Linked DNA regions of Homo sapiens: region 1 is linked to region 2. The links come from fine-mapping of genetic effects on gene expression. A gene starts in region 2. The other region holds a variant in brackets. All regions are shown on one strand. Distances are between the middles of the regions. Region 1 overlaps ZNF185 (zinc finger protein 185 with LIM domain). Region 2 holds the start of ZNF185 (zinc finger protein 185 with LIM domain).

Region 1 (2,900 bases), 26 kb after region 2:
CAAGAAGACCACGAGCGCTGTTTCTCTTCTTGCTCAAAGGGTGGAGGTGGTGGAAGAGGACGGGCCTTCTGAGAAGAGCCAGGACCCACCTGCTCTGGCAAGATCCACTCCTGGCTCAAACAGGTAATCCATTGCGCTCATCTCTGCCTGGGGCTGGTGGCTGCCATACCTGCCACTCAGTCACTGAGGAACCTCAGTCAGGGCACCTCCATGCTGGGCTTCGAGATCAGTGTCCCCATGTGCCCAGTGACAAGACGGGACAAAGAAATCAGTAAGAGCCCATCTGGCTGGATGTCCCAGGGCTGAAAGGAGCAAAACAGTCCAGCCCCCCGGGAGAGAGCACCTGGCTCTGGTCTGATGAGTACGTATCTGTGTCACCTTAACCCTTGCACCACTGAGCCTGGTGGCAACTTGAACACCCCAAGAAAAAGTACCATCCTTGGGGTTTGAGAGGGCCAGCCACCATGGCAGTAGCATGCCATTGTCAGACTTGCTCCTTGCACTCCAATAAGTTAGCCACATTCAGCATGCCCAGGGAGGAGGCTCTGACATCTCCAGAGCCTCTCACAGCCACCTTCTTTGCCAGTGCGGATGGAGGCAGGACCAAAGCGTCTCGGGCAATTTGGATCGAGTGCCTGCCAAGTATGCCTAGCCCCGCTGGGAGCCAGGAGCTCAGGTGGGTGCCGAGAGCTGACTCTGGCTTGTGAGTGGGTGTGATGGCTTCCCGCCAGCCTGGCTGGCTGGTTCTGCCAGCTGGGGAGGGTCTGGCAGTGGGGTGATGGGGCAAGGACAGGCTGAGCACTGGTGATCTCACTCCAGGAAGGGCCGTGATTTGTCTTGATTTCTGATCCCTGAGAATCTGGGCAGATAATGGTGCTCTCTTGTCTGTGGACAACTAATACCTTCTTGTACTTTGTGCAGAATGGTGCTAAGTCCTGCAGGGAGAGCCACCACCTGCTGTTGCTGCTGTTTAAAGTGCCTGCCTGGATTGAGACCTTTGCTCAAATCTAGGTCTCCTAAGAGCTGCATCTCTGTAGCACCCTTGGAAGACCCCTGCATCCAGAAGGGGAGAGGGCCTGTCCCTACCGGTCACTTCCCAGGCCCCCAAGGGCTGTTCAGGCTCTCCTAATACCATAGCAATCCCCCAATTTGAGCTCCACAGCCATTTATAGACAGGTGACCACTGTCCTCAGGGTTACTTCCTCAGTCTGGGAGGGAGACAGAAATGCTGGCAGAGGGAGCCAGGAGCATGAGGCCAGCTCCCTCCATGGCCCCAGGCAGCAGACTGCCAGGGTGCTTCTCCTTTTCACTCTCTCCCTCTCTTGATCTTCTCTGGTTGTCTGACTCTCCCCATAAGAACTTTGGTCCATAGAAGATGTGGAAAGGAAGATTTGAGAATTCTTTACAAGGCAATATCTAGGGCAGAGCTCCCCAGTCTTTTTGGCACCAGGGATTGGTTTCGTGAAAGACACTTTTTCCACGGGA[C/A]GGAGCAGGGGATGGTTTCAGGATGAAACTGTTCCACCTTAGATCATCAAGCACCGGATTCTCATAAGGAGCGCACAATCTAGATCTCTCACATGTGCAGTTCACAATACGGTTCGCGCTCTCATGAGAATCTGCTGATCTGACAGGAGGCGGAGCTAAGGCAGTAATGATCTCTAGCTTACCTCCTACTGTGCAGCCTGATTCCCAGCAGACCACAGACTGGTACTGATCCTCAGGCTGGGGTTGGGGACCCCTGATCTAGGGGACTTGGCAATTGAGGGATATGGGGGCAAAGGCTGCCACAACAAAGTATTGTACCACACCCTGGGGCGCTTAAACCACAGAAACGTATCATCTCCCACTTCTGGAGGCTAGAAGTGTGAGATCAAGGTGACGGCAAGGTTGGTTCCTCTTGAGTCTCTCTCCTTGGCTGGTAGACTCCATCTTCTCCCTGGGCCCTTATATGCTCATCCCTGTCTGTGTGTGCCTGCGTCCTAATCACTTCTGTTTTTTTGAGACAGAGTCTCACTCCGTCGCCCAGGCTGGAGTGCAGTGGCACAGTCACCACTCACTGCAGCCTCGACCTTCCAGGCTCAAGAGAGCCTCCAGCCTTAGCCTCCTGAGTAGCTGGGGCTACAGTCACAGGCCACCATACCCAGCTAGTTTTTTTTTTTTAAATTTTTGTAGAGACAGGGTTTCACCATGTTGCCCAGGCTGGTCTGGAACTCTAGGACTCAAATGATCCTCCTGCCTTAGCCTCCCAAAGTGCTGGGATTGCAGGCATGAGCCACCGCGCCCAGACCCTAATCACTTCTTATAAGGACATTGGTCCAACTGGATTAGGGCCCACCCTAACAACTGTATTTTAACTTAGTCACTTCTTTAAAGGCCCCATCTCCAAATGCAGTAACATTCTGAGGTCATGGGGGAGTTAAGACCTCAACATATGAATTTTGGGTGGCACAAGTCAGCCCATAACAGTATACAGTTCTCATTTCTCCTTATTTCTCTTTTAAAGAAAGGCAATAAATGGTTTCAGGTGCCTTTCTGTTTGTTCGTTTGTTTGTTTTGTTTGTTTTTGAGATGGAGTCTCGCTCTGTCGCCCAGGCTCTGTCGAGTACAGTGGTGTGATCTCGGCTCACCGCAGCCTCCGCCTCCCGGGTTCAAGCGATTCTTCTGCCTCAGCCTCCCGAGTAGCTGGGATTACAGGTGCACGCGACCACGCCCGGCTAATTTTTGTATTTTTAGTAGAGACGGGTTTCACCATATTGGCCAGGCTGGTCTCAAACTGCTGACCTTGTGATCTGCCCACCTCAGGCTCCCAAAGTGCTGGGATTACAGGCGTGAGCCACCGCGCTTGGCCTCAGGTGCCTTTTAGAAGATAATATAGGAGGCTGGGCATGGTGGCTCATGCC
Region 2 (2,900 bases):
AAAAGGATGAGGACAGCTTCCACAGCCTCACTCACCCATCCATCACTTCCTTCTGCAAATTCTTCGGATGCCCTGTGCTGGTCTCCGTGACCCAGTGATGAATCAGAAGGGGCCCTGCCCTCCCAGAGCTCAGGATCTAGAACAATAGAGGGTGACAGCCACTATGCTGGATTGATGTCATCTGAGGGAACTAAGGGGTGCACAGAAGGAAGTGATCAGCTCGACTGGGTGGCAGGCAGGGGAGGCTTTCCGGACACTGGGTGGAGGCTTGAAGAATGACTAAGAGCTCACTAGCCCGACGGGGATGAAGAGCATTTTAGGGAGTCCGAGGAGCAGGAGCAAACACCCCAAGGTGAGCGCCATGTGATGTATTCAGAAGGCAATGGAAAAAGGCCAGTGTGGCTGTAATGTATTGAACAAAGGGAAGAGTGGCTGGACCTGCAGGGATAGGTCGTCTCAAGGAGTCTGGCTTTTACCCTGAGAGCAATGGGAAGCCATGGAGGAGTTGCAAGCAGGAGAGCACCTGATCATATTGACACACGTGAACTTTTAACCTGACCTCCGTGTAGAGACTGAGGGAAAGGAAGGCAAGACCAGAGGCAGGGGGACACCAGCAAGGAGGCTGGTCTTCGGGGCCAGGTCTGGACTAGGGTGGTGGCAGCAGGCACAGGGAGAAGTGGGTGGACTGGAGGGCCATGGAAACACCACATTGGCAGGCCTTGATGAAGGAGAAGCAGCTGGTCCATTCTTTTGAGCCTACCACCCTGGTAGGCCAACTCCTGGCCAAGTCCATGCCATTTCTTGGGCTGGCTTAATTGTCTCCCTGTTTGGGAGGCCGTGGGGTGAGGGGTCTTTCCTCCATGCTCTCTCCATCCTTAGCCCCAGCCCAGGGCCTTGCACACAATAAAGCACTCGGTGAGCACCAACGCGTGACACAGGTACATCAAACCGCATTGGCTCTGGGAGTCTGGCTGTATCTCGTCGCCCAGCCTGGGAGATAGCCCCGTTTGCTGTGCCTTGTGAGCCCCGGGTCCGTCCCAGGATGGCCTTCCACGATGAGCGGCTCCCTCACTCTTCTCCTCCTTTCCTGCCTGCAGGACTTCCTGGATGATCTCAGCCGCCAGCCCCCCGCCCCCCTCCCCGCCCCTGTCTGGGATCTCCATCTGTAAAATGGATCTAGGAACGGTAGTTCTCGACTGAATTAACCCGACAGCATCTGTGGAAGTCGTTGGCCCTGTGCCGGGGCCAGATCGCGCAACTAGGAGCGGGGGCCCTTCACGTGGCGGAGGCTTCCCGGCCTGGGGGCCACGGGCCCGGAGGAATTTGCCTGGAAGTTTTCCATCACGGCAGAGCCTTCTGGAGCTCGCCCCGTGCTCGACAAGGGGAGCCCCAGACTTGATTTCTCCAGCAGCCCCGCGGGGCGGGGCCGAGAAGGGGCGGGCGGGCGGAGGACGCTGGCGGGAGAATGTGCGGAATGTGCCAGGCGCCTCTACCTACCCCAGGAGGGGCAGAGGAAGGGGCCGGCCGAGGGGAGGGGCGAGGGGCGAGGCTCCGGGCGGCCGGAGAAAACCTGTTTGTTCTCCTGCGGGCGGAGCCCAGTCCGCGCCTCCTCGCCTCCCTGCGCGCTCCCCGCTGTGCACCGCGCCCCGCGCCCCGCGCCTGCCTCCCCGGCCCGGCCCGGCCCGGCCGGGCGCCGTCCACCCGAGGGAGCCCGCGCCCTGCGACTGCCCGACCCTCCACCCGCCCCACGAGCCGGGCACCGGTGCCAGGTAGGGCTGTCGAGTCGCCATTGGATGCGGCCCTGCTTGGAGGCAGTGGGGGGCACCCAGTCCGTGCCCAGCTGGGGACAAGTCAGGGCCTCAGTTTCCCCATCCATAACCCTTACCAGCTCCAAGCATCTCTCTTCGGGTTCCCCCCGGGAGTCAGTGGATTTCTGGTTTTCGCTGTGAGTGAAAAGACTGACAGGCAGAGGAGGCCAGCGTCCCCTACAGAGGCAAGTGTCCCCCTTGCCAGCCTGATCCCTCTGTCTTGCCCTTTAGGAAAGACACGGTTTAATTGTTAGTAAACGGCGAGGGGCCAGGATGCTCTGAGAGTTGACTGCAGGCCTTTAAGAATCAGGGAATCTCATATCCCTCCGTCCCCCTGTGCCCATTTTATAGATGAGGAAACTGAGACCCAGAGGCTGGCTCACCCAGAGGATCCCCTCAATCGCCCTGGGGCCTGTGAGGTGCATGTGCTGGGTACAGGGCAATCTTGGGGAGGGCCATGAGGATGGTGGCTGCTCACACTCAGACAGAAGGCGCCGAATCAGGTGTCACTGGGTGTTATCGACAGGATCGGCACTGCACCAGCTCTGTGGCTGGATTGTTTTGATGGGGGCAGAGGGAGCCAAGAGTCTGTCCTCTTTGGAAAGGCAGAGGGATACCTTGCCTTACAAAAAGGCCGAAAGCTCAGGTGCTCCTGCCTGATCTGCCACTTCTGAGCTGGGGACACCTGGGTACTCTGTCGGTTTAAGGGGGTGACACGTCAAGCTGCCTCCCACCCAGGGCTGCTGGGGACTCAGATAAAGTAGGTGGTGGGTGTGTCCCGGCTTTGGGACATCTGAGGCATGGTAGGAGTTGTGTTCTTGCTGAGCCGTCGGCACGAAGCCTTGGCATCATGGGAGGCCCCAAAGCTGTGAGCCCCGAGAGAGGGCCTCTCACACCCCATCCAGCAGTGCTTGAGGCTTCAGTACCTGGACTAAGTCCTGCCTTGGTCTCATGGCCCTTCAGACTTCTGGCTGTCGTACCTGGCTGGGGGCGGGAGGCAGGGGTGCACAGGTTGATAGGCCTGAACAGAGCTGCAGAGGTCCTGCCTTCCCAGGGCCTCCGCTCCTCATCTGAAAAACAAGGGGCAGCTCA

What was found. PIP is the estimated chance that this variant, and not a neighbour inherited with it, causes the effect.
Region 1: its variant is fine-mapped to the expression of ZNF185 in whole blood (TOPMed, PIP above 0.99).

Annotation. Positions count from the first base shown.
Region 1 is chrX:152,922,134-152,925,033 of GRCh38, forward strand. ZNF185 (zinc finger protein 185 with LIM domain) reads left to right here. Exons shown (of 25, transcript NM_001395254.1): 11 at 40-123; 12 at 587-676. Among named protein-coding and RNA genes, the nearest start is that of ZNF185, 26 kb to the left of the region's middle. The variant C/A (reference allele first, on the strand shown) is at 1,486.
Region 2 is chrX:152,896,470-152,899,369 of GRCh38, forward strand. It overlaps ZNF185 (zinc finger protein 185 with LIM domain), which reads left to right and starts at 1,598. Exons shown (of 25, transcript NM_001395254.1): 1 at 1,598-1,769. RefSeq lists an enhancer at 850-1,350.